2 separate regions of the Homo sapiens genome follow, and region 1 is linked to region 2. Evidence: fine-mapped expression QTL. Tissue or cell type: spinal cord. Region 2 holds a variant in brackets; the other region holds the start of a gene. All regions are shown on one strand. Distances are between the middles of the regions.

Region 1 (8,000 bases), 620 kb before region 2:
TCACCTGTAAAATAGGGATGATAACCTCTTTATCCAGAGTTGTCAGGATTAAGTGAGGTCACATATGGAGAGTGTCAGCCATGGTACATGGTAGGTTCCCCATGTTAATTCTTCCCTTGCTGCAAGACACAGAGGCAGGGTAAGCAGTGTAACATCGATCACCTCTCTTCCTTCTCCTTCCTCCTATCTCCTGGACACAGGACACCTTAGACACAGAAATGTCTACTTTTACCTCAACCATTTGCTGAGTGAATGCTTACACCCCTGAACAAAGACAGTGAGGAGAGACGTCTTGATAGGGTGGGGAAGCTCTTAGCTAGAAATGTAGGCAAGCAAATGAATTAGTGGTGAGTCTTTAATAATTCAATCAGCATTCAGTAAATATTTACCTACTTTGTGCAGGAATCTCTTCTAGGTTCTGAAGATAGAAAGGCAAAAAGCTGCCCCTGACCTCACAGAGGTCTCATTCTAGAGGGGGGAGACAGGCTGTTACACAGGCAGTTACAAAACTGTAATAAGTTCTCAGATAGAATAAAGCAGAGGATTGTGAAAGTGTGCAGGGAGAAAATAGCTATAGCCCCCTCGAGGATTCAGGGAAGGCTTGTGGGAAGGTGACACTTGGGCTGGGTATGAAATGATTCATAGGAAGAAGTAGGCAAGGTGAATAAGGGGAGAAAATATTAGCATAGGAGAAATCATATACAGAGCTATGAAGGCATGAATATATGTTCCGGATTCTAGGAGATGAAAACTATTCCAAGGTGCTTGGAACATAGGGTAGGGGTGGGAGCAGGGTAAGAAAATGGTTTGATTTTATTTAGATGGCCATTGGGAGCTATGAGATTTAAACAGGGAAGTGCCATGGTCAGATCTATATTTTTATTTATTTATTTATTTACTTATTTATTTAGAGACAGGGTCTCTCTCTGTCACTTAGCCTGGAGTATGGTGGTATGATCATAGCTCACTGCAGTCTCAAACTCCTAGACTCAAGGGATCCTCCACCTCAGCTTCTTGATTAGCTGATAGTATAGGTGCAGGCCACCATGCCTGACTATTTTTTATTTTATTTTTTGTAGAGACAAGGTCTTGCTATGCTGCCCAGTCTGGTCTCCAATTCCTGGCCTCAAGTGATCCTCCTGTCTTGGCCTCCCAAAGTACTGTGATTACAAGTGGGAGCCACTGTGCCCGGCCAGATCTATACTTTAGAGACTGATAAGGAGACCAGTGTGGAAAATCACTAATTAGGAGAAGGATGAGGATGGAGGCAAAAAGAACTTGGAAGAAATGTAGTAGTGAGGATGGAGAGGAGGAGGATTGTTAGTTAAATTTATGACAAGTCAGATATAGGAGTATGGGAGAGGAGGGGCTGAGGATGACTCAGATTTCTGAACTGGGGGAGTTGGCCATAGGGCCATTCACCCAGTTAGGGACATAGGAGTGAGGAGCAACGTCAGAGATGAAAAAATGATGTTCGATTTTGCAGATGGATCCTGATAGAGATATCCAGTAGACAGACTGTGGGAGGGCAGAAGAGAGTGTGAGTTGTAACACGGGTTAGTGTAAAAAGCAGACATTACTGTCTAGCCTGCTAAAGTGAGAAGCAGGTTACTGTGTTTCACTTTATTTTGTTTTTGACAATTAAAATATTAAGGAGTTTTATTTTAATACCAAAAATATAAAGGAAAAAAATGCAGCACATAATCCCACTGCTCAAATAACCCCTATTGAAAGACAGGGAGGGGCCGGGCACAGTGGTTCATGCCTGTAATCCCAGCACTTTGGGAGGCCAAGGTGGGCGGATCACAAGGTCAGGAGTTCGAGACCAGCCTGGCCAATATGGTGAAACCTTGTCTACTAAAAATACGAAAATTAGTCAGGCATGGTGGTGCGCGCCTGTAGTCCCAGCTGCTCTGGAGGCTAAGGCAGAAGAATCACTTGAGTCTGGGAGGCAGAGGTTGCCGTGAGCTGGGATTGTGCCACTGGACTCCAGCCTGGGCAGACAGAGGAGTGAGACTCTGTCTCAAAAAAGAAAAAGAAAACAAAAAAAAAAAAAAAAGAGAGAGAGAGGGAGGATAATATATACTTAGAAAACACAAATCAGTTCAGACAAGTATAAAAATGAAAAGTGCAGGCCTTCCCTCAGTCCTCCATTCCCTTAACCACTGTTAACAGTTTCTTGTGTTTCCTTTGTGGAAAAAAAAAAAAGCATATACCTACTAGATTCTGAGTATCTCCAAAGGGGTTCTGCCATTTACAGTGTTTAAGAGGTCTGTTTTATTGAGCAGATTAAACTTCTCATCACTTTGCCAGCCTTCACAAACCCACCTATTTTGGTCAGGTGGACCTGTGAGCTCACTGAGGGGAAGGGGAGGGGGCGGGTTCTGTGTTTCTGTGTCCCTAGCTCAGGTATAGGGGCTGGCCCAGGGTAAGTGCTCAAAAGAATAATGGAAAGAGCTGTTTCTTCATCTGGAAATTTGGAGGGCCTTTGCTTTCAGGTCCAGTTGGTTAAATGACTCATTCAGCAAACGTTTTCAGAGTCCCGACTAAATGTGCAGCGCAGTGCTTGTTGTGTGTGTGTGTGTTTTGCAGCGGGGCGGCGGGGGGGGGCATTGTGGGGGGTGGAGGGAGGGCAGAGGACTTGGATCCTGGCCTTACTGAAGAGAAGAGCAGAACTAGAAAGGCCAGAGATCTTCCAACTTCATGCCTTTGGAGGGGGGAAGCTGAGGTCCAGAGTGAGGTTACCATTCGTCTAGAGCCACATGGCTTGTTGGCAGCAGAACCAGCTGTGACTCCACAAGAGTATGTGGTGGTGGGGGGTGCAGGCACTGAGTGAGGCGCAACCCTTGGCCTGTGTGTTATGGGCATGGTTGATTTACACCCTCTCCCTGTGAGCAGCAGAGTGGTTGGTACTGAAGGAACAGCATTGCCAGGAGTCAGGAAGCCTGGATCCCGGGGCTCTGCCACCCTCCACCACATTGACACAGGCCAGTCACGTCCTTTCTCCTCTGAATGGAGGGTGGGTCTAACTAAAACCTCAAAGTCTTTCTTACTATTATTACTCTAATTGTTAGATACTATTTTAAACAAATTATAGGAAATCCAATTTTATGATTTTGAAATTCTAAAATCCTGGTTTTCCAGGATTCTGAGGATGCTGCTTGGGGTCGGTTGTTCTGTGCAGAGTCCTGTGCTATGAACTTGACATGTTGTGTAGTCCAGAAGGGCTCCATATACATTTTCCAGTTTGAGACCAAGGTCAAAGAGACCAGACTTCAAAGGAGTTCGAAACCAGTCAGGCCCCTTGGAGCCAGCCCAGACCACCATCAAACAGTGCACAGGAGGCGCCTAGGTGAAATGCAGAAACCATTTCAGGGCTTGGCTGGATCCTTCGGTAGGCATGGCAGGTAGACCAGGCCTAGGCAAACACTGCCATTTTACACGGGAGGACTCAGGCTCAGAGCGGGGAACTGAGCCATTGCCTGCAGGCTCTGTGAAGCCTTACTGTTCTTTGTCCCGTGCTCTTCCTACACGTTGGGCAGGGCCCCCTGAGACACTGCGTGCTGTCTGTGGGGGAATCCCAGAAGGCAGGACAACAGAGTAGACCCCTAGAGTGGGTCTCAATCCCCAGATCTGTAAGGATCTCCTGGGAGCTCGCTAAAAGCCTAAGTGCTGGGGGCCTATTCCCCAAGACTCAATTGGAATATTTCCTAGTTGGGATCAGGCACCATTTTTTTATCTTTAACTTCAGAGTTTGAGACCTTTTACCCTGGACTCTTTCCGGCGGAAAACACAAAAACAAACGTAAGAAAGTGGGCTGAGAGGCCTGGGTTTGGGTCCCAAATTTGCTGCCCACTAGCTGTGAAATCTCTGCAAATTCTCCAGTGAGAGGGTTGGATTCTGCAAGAAAACTTTTCAAGCACTTTCGCATCTGTCCGCTTCGCGTTAGCAGACAGCGTCGTTCCCATCTGACGGAGGGGAAAACCGACCGGGAGAAGGGAGGATCCTGCCCGGGGCTAGTGGAGAGGCGGGCAGGGAGCCGGGTTCAGCCCGGCACTCCTCACGCCCAGCGCACTCCGCCGACCCCCGAGCCCAGCCTCTCTCGCCGCGGCGCCGCCCCGCCGTCCTGCCCGGCTCGGCCGTCTGAGAACAGCGGGCAGCGCGGGGATCCAGCCGGCCGCCGCCTGTCAAACCCTCTGCTCAGCCCCGCGTCGGGCCCCGCCCAGACCCCCAGGGGGGGATGCCCCGCCCTCGCGCCGCGATTGGCCTGAGCCGGGCGGCCGCGGCCAGCCAGTGGCTGGAGCGGCTGTTGGGCAGACGCGGGCCCGCCCCCGTCCCCCGGGGAACCGCCCCGCAGGACGCGGCGGCGGCGGCGGCGGCTGCGGCGGCTGCGGGGGCTGCTGCGCCAGTGGAGGCGCGCCGAGCCGGGCGCCCAGCGATCTGCAGCTGCCGCTGCGAGGTGAGAGGGGGCGCGGCCCGCGGCCGAGGGAGGGGCGTGTGCGGGGCCCGAGATCCGAGGCTGGCGTCCCGGCGACGCTCGAACCCCGGCAGCTTGGGGATGGCGCAGGGAGCGCGGAGGGGAACGGAGAGTTTGGGGGCCCCTGATGGAAGGGCTGAGGGAGGCTCTGTCGCGGCCCCCATCGCACGCGCGTGTGGCGAGAGCGTGGGACTGTGTGGTTGTGCGCTGCTGAGCGTCTGACCAGCGGCAGTGTGGGTGGCGTGTCCGTCCCCGGGCGTGCCTCGGCGGGTGTGCGGGTGTGTGGCGGCGGCCGCGTGGGCATTGCCCACTGTGCCGGTTTGCGCGCGCGACGGGCTCGATTCCTCCGCTGCGCATAGGAATGTGGGTGTCCCGGCTGCGCGTGATGGGTTCGCGTCGCAGGATTCAGCGCCCAGCTTGGGACTCCTGTTTTCCAGGTTCGGGTGGTCGCGGGTGAGTCTCTGGGGGTTTCCCTCGGGCCTTTGGGTTCGGGTCCCCAGCTTCTGCGCGCAGCTCGGCCCCGGAGAGTCGACGAAGCGCGCAGCCCGTGACCTACCCGGAGCCGTCTCCGGGGCTTCGCCCGAGCCCTGCTCTGGGAATCCTCGTTGCCGCCGGCTCCGTGTTCCACTGGGGGACGCGGAACAGGCGCCTTACCCGCTCCAGGCCTCAGTTTCACCATTCGTGCAAAGGAGGCTGGTTTCGGTGGAGGAGGATTTGGGTGGGACTTCGCGGTAATGCGCCGCGGCGCGGGGGCCTGGGGTCCTCCCCACACCAGGGAAGGGCGAACCGCTCCTGAGCGAGGGGGCTTTTGCGTGGAATCAGGTGGGTTTGACCTCTGATTGGGCTAGGTGTCGTGGTGCTAACCTATGTTAAAGACGCGCAATCCACCGAAGGGGCAGTGACCTGCTCAAACTCGGCCCCGGGACAATACGGGGGCCGCTTTCCGCATTCTAACTGGCTGTGCTGTCTCCCCTCCCCAGGAGCCCGGCGCGACCCCCAGCCGTGCGCCCCGCCCCGGCGCCATGCATTGCGAGGTGGCTGAGGCACACTCGGACAAGAGGCCTAAGGAGGCCCCTGGTGCGCCCGGCCCCGACCGCGGCCCCGCCAGCCTCGGCGCGCACATGGCCTTCAGGGTCACCGTGAGTGGCGGCGGCTGCGGGGACAGGGGCCCGCGGGACCTGCTAGCCCGGCCGCCTGCGCCGCCACCGCGCGCCCACGACCTCCTCCGGCCCCGCAGTCCCCGAGACTACGGTCCATCCAAGGCCGCCGCCGCCGGGAAGGGTGAGTTCGGCCCTGCCAACGTGCCTGGCGGCTCCTGTGGAGATTCGGGCTGCCCGGCGTCGCCACCGCGTGCTCGGGAGAGCTTGGTGGAACTTTCTTCGGAGTTCCTCAGTTTCTCTCTTATTGTTTGGGACTAGCTTGTCAGTGTGAAAGTATGCCTGCTTTGCGAAGCATCTAATTTAAATTCAATTAGCCCCGTTTGGGGAAATGTGTTTATAGAAAGCTCTCAGCTTACATAATTTTGCTTCTGTGTGTTTCTGATAAAGCTTGCATAGAAACTTGTCAAAATTTTATTATACATGAGGGCGAATAGCAACGCATATATTGGTATCTGTTTCTGAGCAGCTCAAGGCATAGTTTGAAGTATTTCAATCTCCTCAGCTGACAAAACCCAGAGGCCTTTAGCAAGACCCCTCTCCTTTTGGGACCTCAGTTTCCCCATCTGTCAAGTGAGGAATTAATTAAACCAGATGATTTCTGGATTCCTGATGGAAAATTTTCTGCATCAGCAATCCAGCCTAGTCACGTCCTAACTTAAACATGGCTTTTCTGTACTTGGTGCTTCGGCAGCCTAGTCTTGGGTCACAAGCTCCTTGGCAAGTCCCTTCGTCCCCCAGTGAAGCTGGCCACGGGAAGGTGGGGGTCCCAGTATGGCTTATGGGCTCAAAGTCGGAGATGGTGCTGGGATTTTCAGGAACATGCTCTTCTCATCACAGTTAATTATTATTGAGTCATTATTTATGAGTTTCGTGCTGACAGATAATTAACCAGGAATTGGAGAAATTGTTAAGATGCTGTGTCCTCGTCCTCCCCCCTTTTTTTTTCCCTTAGGGGAAACCAAGGCTTTGGGGTTTGACTATATCTGCATTTGGAACCTCTTGGTTCTCATTCCAGATGATTCTCAAGGAAGACAAAAACAGTTTGGGTTTTACGGTTATAGGCATCACTTCCTAGCATCAGCCTCACAACTCGGAAGGGGTAGGCAGCCTACTTTTAGAGTTGAGAGCTCCTTGTGGATCAAAAACACCCAACTCCCTGGTTCAGGGATTAGTAAAATGAAATAAACATAAGTAGTTTTTTTCTTTTTTGAAGAAAACACTTGACTTTGTAAGAGAGAACTACTTCTCATCTCCTTGTTTTAGATGCCAGCCTCTTTTTCAAGGGATAGAGATAATATTTTAGAAGGACAGATACAGTGGGGAGGGGCGGGAAATGCCTGCTGAGTGTTATTGCTGGAATACACACATATGAGGTCTCTTTTACCAGAGAGGAGCGCTGCGCAGCGAGACATGAGTAATGTTTGCTGCCGGGAGCTCCCTGGCTTGCCCCGCTCCATACACAATCCTCCCTTAAATAGATACCCTCCTGCAACGTTCTGTGTTTAAAAAAATCATGGCTGTCCTCTGAAGATCGAGTTCTCTGCAGACCTAGCAAACAGCTCTCCCGAACATAATCTTTGTTCCACGCTATGGTGAGACCTTTCACCTGGGGGCTTTGTGTACGATCTTCCTACTTCCATTCCCCCTAACCCCAGTTATTTTTACGCACGCCCCCAAACATGTCCAAAATAAAAGATCTTTAAGTCAGGATTCCATTTGGAAAGGGCAGAGGAGAATAAAGGGATGGGAGGAAGAGCCTCTTTCTTTGTACCTTAAGCTGGTCTCTCTGGTGAAGCTTTTTTCCAAGAGGTTTCACAACTTTTCTTCATAGCCTCCCAGTGAGGCTGTTGTGGTGGGATGTATCCCACTCATTTGAAGGGTGAGGAAACTGAGGCCTGAAGGTGGGAAAGTGTTTGGTATGTGTAGGGCAGTGGTTAGGGAAGCCACAGCTCTGGCCTAACCTGGCCTAGGGAGAAAGGGAAGGCTCAGGGTCCTGGGCTTGGAGAGGTTTCCCTGCTGGCCTCTGTGTTGCTATAGGCAAGCTTTTCCTCACAGTGCAGTCACCAAGTGGCCCGAGACAAACCCAGCTTTCCCCCAGTTCTTCAGCGTCCTTAAAAATGCTGCGAGGAAACGGCACCTTCTTACTGCCCCTACTCCCACCGAAATAGTCCCAGACCATGTAACCCTTTGAATATTTGGTGTCTAGCTCCAAGTTCTCAGGCTTATTGGAAACAGACAGAAATACCAATTGAAAAATATGTATTGACTGTGCTGGGAATTGTGAGACCCCACCATCTATGATCTGTGGCACTTGGGGGAATCGATTTTACTCTTCTGAGCCTTTGGTTCCTTCGTTTGTAAAT
Region 2 (8,000 bases):
CCTCCAGCTTCTGCTTTTGATCCAGTTCAAGCTTATCATTCTCACAGGTCCCAGTGGAGCGCCCTCTTGGCACCCAGGCCTGGGAAGGAGGGACCTTCAGAGGGCAGCAGGGCATGCCAGGGTAGCAGCACCCACCGCCCACACTCTGAGCCCCACACTCTCTCCCACCTTCCCTCCATGGAAATCAAGGTGGAGGCCAAGAGGTTTGGTCCATGTGGCTCCAGAGGGCTGGCTGGGCCCAGTGTGGCCCAATGCTCTTCCCCGGAGGCGGATTTCATTGTGACACCAGGAAGGACTTCCTAATAAGCATCACGAGCTCTTAGTGGAGGGGCTGACTCAGAAGGTAGTGAGTGCTCTGTCCTCTGAGATATGCAAGCAGAGGTGGTGGAGGAATTTCTGCCCTTGGGAGGGTGTGCTGAGACGAGATGGCCCAGACTTTAGCTGAGTGGGAGTCTGGGCATGCTGCCTTAGGCCTCAGGAGGAGTCGGCTTGAGTGTGGGGCTTTGGCAGAGCCGTCTGGGAAGCATGACTTGGAGCTGGCGCTAATGGGCATGGCACTGGCTGTCAGCTGTTGGGCCTGCCTTCTGCTCAGGGGAAAAGAAGAGTAAGCCATGATGCTCAGATGGACTGAAGGGACCCCTCTTGCCCGCAGACCCCCGAAGCCTCCTTCCTGCGGCCTGTCTGGTAGACTTCCTGCAGCTGCATCCCAGGGCCAGCTGGGGAGAGCCTCTGTGGCTAGGTCAGCCAAGGCCAGAGCCCAAGGACTTGGCTGCAGGGCTTGGGGCTCCTCACTGTCCCTCAGGTCCTCCCACTGCCAGGAGGTTGTGACTGGATGCTGTCATGCCAGCAGACTAGGGCTTGAACCCACTTATTGTGTGACTTTAGCAAGTTGCTTGCACACCTCCAGTGACTGGGAGGTCACCACTTCTCAAGGTAGTTCCTGCCAGAGCAGGACAGCTCTGCCAGAAAGTTATTCCTGGTGCTGAGCTGAGAGCCCTAGGGCTTTTCCCATCATCCCCAGCATTCCCAGGTCTGCTCCGCTCCGGACCACACAGCACCTGCCCCCCAGCCCCCCAGCTGCTCCCCGCAACCAGGCACGTGCCTCTATCACCTGCTGCCTACCCAGCTGCCCTCTACAGGACACACACACCCCGCCCCGTCCCTTTCTCAATGAGTCAAAGCAGGTCTGCAGCAGCCTCCACCAGCCCCCGGGCTTCTGAAGCCACAGGCAGGGGGCCCACCAGCCCTTTGGCAGCCCCGCGTCCCAGGTGACTCACCAGCTGGCAGCAAACAAAGCCCAAAGTCCCCTCCCCACGTGTGCAGCCACGGCTCAGCCTCCCCCTCCCACCCCGGTGTTTGTGCACTCCAAGCTGTGGAAGCCAAGTGCGGCCCAACACATGTCTGTGTTCAGGCTCATTGTGTCAGAATTGACTGCTGGGGTCTGCTTGGATTCCCAACTCCCTCATCCAGCACATTAGCTATTCCTCCCAGCTTCCTGTCCTCTACAAATCTGCTCCACATGCTGTCGGGGGCCTTGGCCAAGCCATTGATTAAAATGACCAGAAAGGAGAGGGCCGAAAGCAGAGTCCTGAAGCTGATCTCTAGACACCCTCTCTACTGCCCAGGACATTCAGCTCCTTGTCCCTTCACCAAGCCCCCATCTCTTCCCAGATTTCTGGTGCCAACTGTCTCGATGTCACACAGACACACAACACCGTGGGCATTCCCCTAAGCCCATCCGGGGACCAAGGCTGGTACTGGTGATCTGTTCTCAGGAAACCTTCAATGGCTGCTCAGTCACCTGGGCACACAAGTCGTCCTTTTCACGTCTGATCTAGAATGTCACCCTGGTTCAGCATCACACACATCAGCAACCCTGCACCCAGGCCTGTGCCAGACCTTGGGTTTTAAGGACCTAGAGCCAAACTAGACTTAGCCTTGCCTTGGAGGAGTTCCAGTCTGCTGGGACAGGTGGTCACAGACAGACAGTGAAGACAGAGGAAATTATAACAATTGAAATGCAGTGCGTACTTATCACATGCCATGTACCACTCCAACCCAAGATTTGGCCTCACAGCAAACCGGCATCATCCGCACTCATCCTCAGTGGAAACTGAGGCACACCCAGGCCCAGTCACATGCCCAAGGGCTCGCAGTGAGTGAGGGATGCTTACGGGAGCTTCCTCGCCTTGCCTAGGGCCAGGGCAGCCTTCAGAGGGCGGTGGTGCCTGAGTGGAGACTTCAGAGCTGAGCAGCATCCACAGGACAGGAAAGGAGAAGAAGGCGGGGACTGGGCTCCCGGCACTCCGTGCCAGCCCGTCCTGTGCCAGGTGCTGGGTCAGGCCCTGGGGATTCGGGTTGAGCCCACTAGCAGGGTGCTCCGTAACAAACTGGGAAGCACAGGGTGCCCTGGGGAAGTGGGTGAGATGGCTGCAGTCAGGGAAGGCTTCCCAGAGGCAGTGATGTCTAAGCTGACCCAGGGTTGGGGACATTGGGCCAGGGTTGGGGAAGGGATGGTGGATGGAGAGTTCCAGGCGGGAGGAACATCCAGTGCAAAGGTACTTCCAGGAGCAGAGTGGACGAGGAGGAGAGCGGCCCAGCCCCAGGGGACGCAGGGCAGGGAAGGAGCTGGGATGGTTGCGGAGGGCAATGGGGAGTCACCCCAAACTGGGGGAGGGGCATCCGGCAGCTGGGCAGCCTGCAGGCTCTCTTGGCTCTCTCTGTAGGGAGGTGCGACTACAACTTCGACTTCGTGGGGGCGTGGTTTCTAATCCCTCACCTTTGTAACCAGCGCTTGGCAAATGGCAGAGCTGCCCTGCACCTCCCAGTGTGAGATGGGGTCAGGAGTCCCACCTCAGGGGTTGGTGCGAGAACCAGGGGAGGGTCAGTCAGCAGCCTTTTTCTCCTTCCACCGGGAGCCTGGCAGTCTTTGCCTCCCTTCCCCCACCCCTGCAAGTGGAGCAATTACCAGATTGAGACAGGCTGGGCCTTCCCACTGCCTCTGCGGGTTAATGTCTCTAATCACTGCAATCTCTTGAT[C/A]CACAATCCCTGGGCTCTGAGTGGTGGCCAGATGGCTTAGGAGGGAGTTCCAGCCTCCAGACTCCCAGAGGCTCTTCCCTGGGGCCCTCAAACACCGCAGGTGCTCCCAGGAGCACCCAGCCAAGCGTGGTGTGGGAGAGAGGTGGTTGCCTATTCTCCCCTCACCATAAATCACAGAGCCAGAAGGAATGTTTGAAGTCATCCTCATGGAACCTCCCACTCTATCTGGAAGCCTCCATCTAGCATCTCAACAGGTGGCCATCCAGGATCCACCTGGATGCCTCCAACAATGGGAAGCTCACCACCACAAATCTGAGGCTCATTACCAAGGGCAGGCTGTGAACTCCGAGATTGAACTAAAATGGCTTTACATGGGCTGGATCACATTAAAATCATAGTCAGCTGGGCTGGGTGGCTCACACCTGTAATCCCAGCACTTTGGGAGGTGAAGACAGGAGGATCATTTGGGCTCAGGAGTTCCAGACCAGATTGGGCATCATCAAGATACCCCCATCTCTACTAAAAATTTTTAAAAATTAGCCAGGCATGGTGTCGAGTGCCTGTAGTCCCAGCTACTTGGGAGGCTGATGTGAGAGAATCATTTGAGCCTAGGAGGTCAAGGCTGCAGTGAGCCATGATCGTGCCACTGAGCCCCAGCCTGGGCAACAGAGTGAAACCCTGTTTCAAAGAATTAATAAAAAATAAAATCATAGCCCAAACCAGATCTTTTCCCCCACCACCAGAGTTAAACCAGGTTTGTGCCACAGACAGGCACTGTGGGAGTGGGAACCCCACAAGGTTCTGAATCAGAAATCCCTGTTCCAATCTTGACATTATGGTTCACCAACTGGAGGGCCTGGCCAGTTGCCTCCATCTCCCTGTGCTCCATTTTCCCCATCTGTAACTCAGAACTATTGTATTGGGCTGTCCAATACAACAGCCACGAGTCAGAGGAGGCCTCTGAGACCCAAAAGCAGGCAGTGCAACTGAGGAACTGAACTTTTATTTAATTTAATTTAAAATTTAAAACCTGAAGCAATATAAATTTTTTTTTGAAACGGAGTTTCACTCTTGTTGCTCAGGATGGAGTGCAATGGCGTGGCCTCAGCTCACTGCAACCTCTGCCTCCCAGGTTCAAGCGATTCTCCTGCCTCAGCCTCCCAAGAAGCTAGGATTACAGGCATGCGCCACCACACCTGGCTAATTTTGTATTTTTAGTAGAGATGGGGCTTCACCGTGTTGGTCAGGCTGGTCTCGAACTCCTGACCTCAGGTGATCCACCTGTCTCAGCCTCCCAAAGTGCTGGGATTATAGGCATGAGCCACCGTGCCTGGCCTAAAAATTTTTATATTGATGACATATTGAAATGATAATATTTGGGATAAACTAGGTTAAATAAAGTATTAAACTTAATTTCACCAAAAAACTAATTTCACCTGTTTCTTTTTACTTTTTAATGTGACCACTAGAAAATTCTAAATTACAAATGTGGCTCGCAGTGGAACTCCACAGTGCTTCACTCAGAAGGTTAAGGATCCACTGGGCTGGGTGTTCAGGTGTCTGGGGAACAGTAAAGTCCCAGAGAGATGATGGCTTCTGAGGCTGCTGGGTCCTCCAGGAGGTGTCATCTCCATCACACAAGAAGACGGGCTCAATCTAGAAAGAATAGAGAATGTGAAGGACTATTCGAAACAAAACAAAAATTACTTATAACACCCAAAGATAATAATTACATTTCCTATAGAGTTTGCTTGTTTCCGTGCCCGTCCACGCGACCTGGTCTCCCACCACCACTGGGCACCAGCTGCAAGTTCTCAGAAAAGTCACCTTTAACAGCTTGACCTTGAAGCCTGGGACCTTGAGGAGCCTCAGCAGGGAGGAATCCCTCAAAAAGCCAAAGGGCAGGGCCTTACACCTCCTTTCTGTGCCTGTGAGCTCTGAGTGGAAGCCACGACCTCTGCATGCCCAGCTCCCATTCTTCTTGGCCTCCGCCCTCACCTGCGGTGGCCCTGGCACTCCGGGGGAGGCTGGCCTGTGCTGCCAGCTGTCACCAGCAGTTCCCGCGGCTGCTCACCTCTCCCTTCCGCCATTTGTGGGAAGGGAGGGAGGCTCCAGCACAGAACGACTTGGGTCCCAGGATTCTCTCCATTTCGTCCATGGGTGCTCTCCTGTCCAGAGCTGATGGGGGCCCCAGGGTGGGGTCAGGGATCCCTCTTGCTCTGTCTAAAACCTACACTCCCTCCCACATCTCAATCTGTCCCTGAGTTGGCGCCACCCCCGTGTTAGGCCTCTTCGTCCCCGGTGGGGGGCCTTCTGAGGGGCCTTTATCCTTTCCTGAAATCCAGTCCTCACCTGCACCCCACTCCACACAATCCCTCAGACACATCTATGTGCCTAGACTGCAAATCTGGAGGGAGTCCACCATCCCAGGAGGTTCCAGGGCTCACTGCAGAGATGCAAACAATCTGGTAACTTGCTTTTCCACTTAGCATTGATTTAGGAACACCCTTCCAGGGACACGATCACTCCGGATGGCTGCTATACCGTCCCTTCCTATCTAATCTGCATTGGTGAGTTCTTAGGTCAGGTTTTTGATCTTACAAGTACTACTTCAGTGACCCTCCCAGTACACCATGTGTACTTTGATCTTCTCAAATGGAAGGAATTTTTCGTTCTCCCTTCTAGACATCCAGCAAATTCTGCTGCCTGAGTTGTGCTGAAGTGCCACAAGGCCACCCTACTCCTGAGCTCAGCCTATCTTCTCTATCCCTTCTATCACCAATCTGTCACTAACCCTCAGATATTACCTGAGCTCGGGCCACATCGAACAGCACGGTGTCTCACACTTTCCAGCCTCCCTTCTGCCTTCCACTGTCTCACTGCTGCGCATGTCTGCCCCATCTCCAAATCCTCTCCCATTTCCAAGAGCCAGGTCAAATGCCACCTCCTCCAGGGAGCCCTTCCTGACTTTCCTAGCTCGAAGTGATTCCCCCTTCTCTGAACAAAGACAGCATTTCCTTGTCCCCGCTTCCCTTGCGGTTCTGATGCTCCCACATAGTCCAGGGGCCATTTGAGTGCACTTGTGGCCCAGTGTCCTTTCCTTCTCCCTCCCCATTCCCTGGCAGATTAGGAACTCCTTGAGGTCAGGGACAGGTTCTGATTTCTTCCTGTGGGCACAGGGCATGGCACGGAGTGGGCATGTGCGAAAGGTTTGAATGCACGTGAATGAAGGAGGACAGGCCTGGGTCTGGCCCTGAGTTCTGGCCCAGCCGGGCACTGCTGTCCTGTGTGACCTCAGGCAGGGCCTGCTCTCGGGTACATGGCTTCCCTGTGGCCTGAGGCGGCTGGACCCCACTGCGGGGGGTTCTGTCATGGTGGGAGGACTGTTTGGCCCTGGGTTGACGCACCGGCCCTGCGTGGGATAATCTCTCTTTGATGATGATTGCAGGGCAGCCCCCCATTTCCTCTGGCTGCACAATCCCATTATGAGCCCTTCAGGATTTATGTCTAAGACCCACCCTAAGCCCATCACTAACATATGGCATCCTGGCAGATGAGGATGAGCAGAGATTGTAAACACTCATTCATTCATTCACTCACTCCTTCACTCAGCAGTCTGCTACCAAACTGCGGACCCAGCATTCAATCAGAACCTGGCCCAACCCTGGAGGTGCTTCCAGTAAAGAGTCCGCAGTCCAGTGAGGTGGGGGCAGGGACAGTGGGAGGCACAGGGACTGTGGAGCCAGAGAAGGAGGCTTCACTCAGCCTGGTGGTCAGAGACGGCTTCCTGCAAGAGGGGATGCTCAAAGTGTGTCTTACCAGAAGAGTAAGCCATTGCGCCAGCGAGCAGGCAGGGCAGGGCCCTCACAGGCGGTGGCTCCCGCTGGGGGAGGGGGCCGGTGTTCACGCTCAGCCTGGGGCTGGATGCTGCTGCATGGAATCTAATGATAAGAGGAGCGTGGCTGGGGATTATCTGCTCTTGTTTACATGATTAAAACCAGACAAATACTTCTTTATCTGAAAGAATGAAAGGGCTTTGGGGAAAAATCCTTTTGTCAACAAAGCAAAGCACAAGCATTTCCTTAATTAATCTCACTTCACCCCACACCCCCCACCGTCCCACACCCCCCACAATGGCTGCAAGAAGCGTTGCTCTAGGGCTCCAGGGCTCCAGGGCTCCAGGACGCCAGTACTCTGGGGCTGACCTGCACTGGTAGGCAGAAAGCCCAGGCCAGGGTGGCTAGGGGTGGGGAGGAGCCGAGAGGAGAGAGACCCACAGCCCTCTCAACACAGCCCCCTGTGACAAGGAGCCTGGGCCCAGGCACAAACCCAAGATGTCCCCATTTTACAGATGGAGATCCTGAGGCCCAAAGATGGGGAAGTGACTTGCTTGCCTGAGGCCACACAGCCAGTTGGCAGAGCTGGGACTAGGACCTGGGTCACCAGCCCCCAGCCCAGCGCTCTCACTCACTCCTCATTAGCTCGTCCAGGAGCCCGCAGGAACCGCCTGCGGTGCCGTCCTCTCGGGACCCACAGGGAAGTCAGACTCATCCCTCCTCTCACAAACAGACAGGCAGCGTCCTGATGGAGCAGCCAGGGGCTGTGGGGGTCCTAGAATGGGCTCCTCACTCTGGGGGAGAGGCAGGTAGATCTCAGAGGTAGACCAAGCTTGGTCCTGCCTGGCTGGGCAGGGGTCAGGAGAGTGAAGGAAGCTTCTGAGAGGACACCAAGCATGGGAAACTTGAGGCAACAAAGTAAAGCACACGCATTTCCTTAATTAATCTCTCACTCCCCCAACAGTGTCCCCACCATCCCACAGCCACCCTGGCCTGGGCTCTCTGCCTAGCAGTGCAGAGGTCTCAAGGCACAGATGTGTGTGGCCTGCGCCCCGGGGCGTGGGGGAGAGGGCAGAGCAGAAAGAGAGGCTGGAAGGAGCACAGGACTGGATTGTTGGAAGAATG

Which allele goes with the higher level. Positions count from the first base shown, and alleles are read on the strand shown. Sizes are in standard deviations (SD) of each study's normalised expression.
As copies of A replace C in region 2, the expression in spinal cord of the gene that starts at base 4,400 in region 1 goes up (moderate effect, 0.43 SD a copy in GTEx).

The links. PIP is the estimated chance that this variant, and not a neighbour inherited with it, causes the effect.
Region 1: it holds the start of GLIS1, and the variant in region 2 is fine-mapped to the expression of GLIS1 in spinal cord (GTEx, PIP above 0.99).

What each region holds. Positions count from the first base shown.
Region 1 is chr1:53,735,564-53,743,563 of GRCh38, reverse strand. It overlaps GLIS1 (GLIS family zinc finger 1), which reads left to right and starts at 4,400. Exons shown (of 11, transcript NM_001367484.1): 1 at 4,400-4,459; 2 at 5,458-5,758. The coding sequence starts at 5,500. RefSeq lists silencers at 4,051-4,400, 4,411-4,580 and an enhancer at 4,266-4,984.
Region 2 is chr1:53,115,091-53,123,090 of GRCh38, reverse strand. All of the region lies in intron 2 of SLC1A7 (solute carrier family 1 member 7), which reads left to right. It overlaps LOC105379783 (a long non-coding RNA gene), which reads right to left. Exons shown (of 4, transcript XR_007066089.1): 2 at 7,511-7,779; 3 at 6,859-6,980; 4 at 4,470-4,695. Among named protein-coding and RNA genes, the nearest start is that of SLC1A7, 24 kb to the left of the region's middle. RefSeq lists enhancers at 372-1,171, 1-2,485, 6,929-7,911. The variant C/A (reference allele first, on the strand shown) is at 3,040.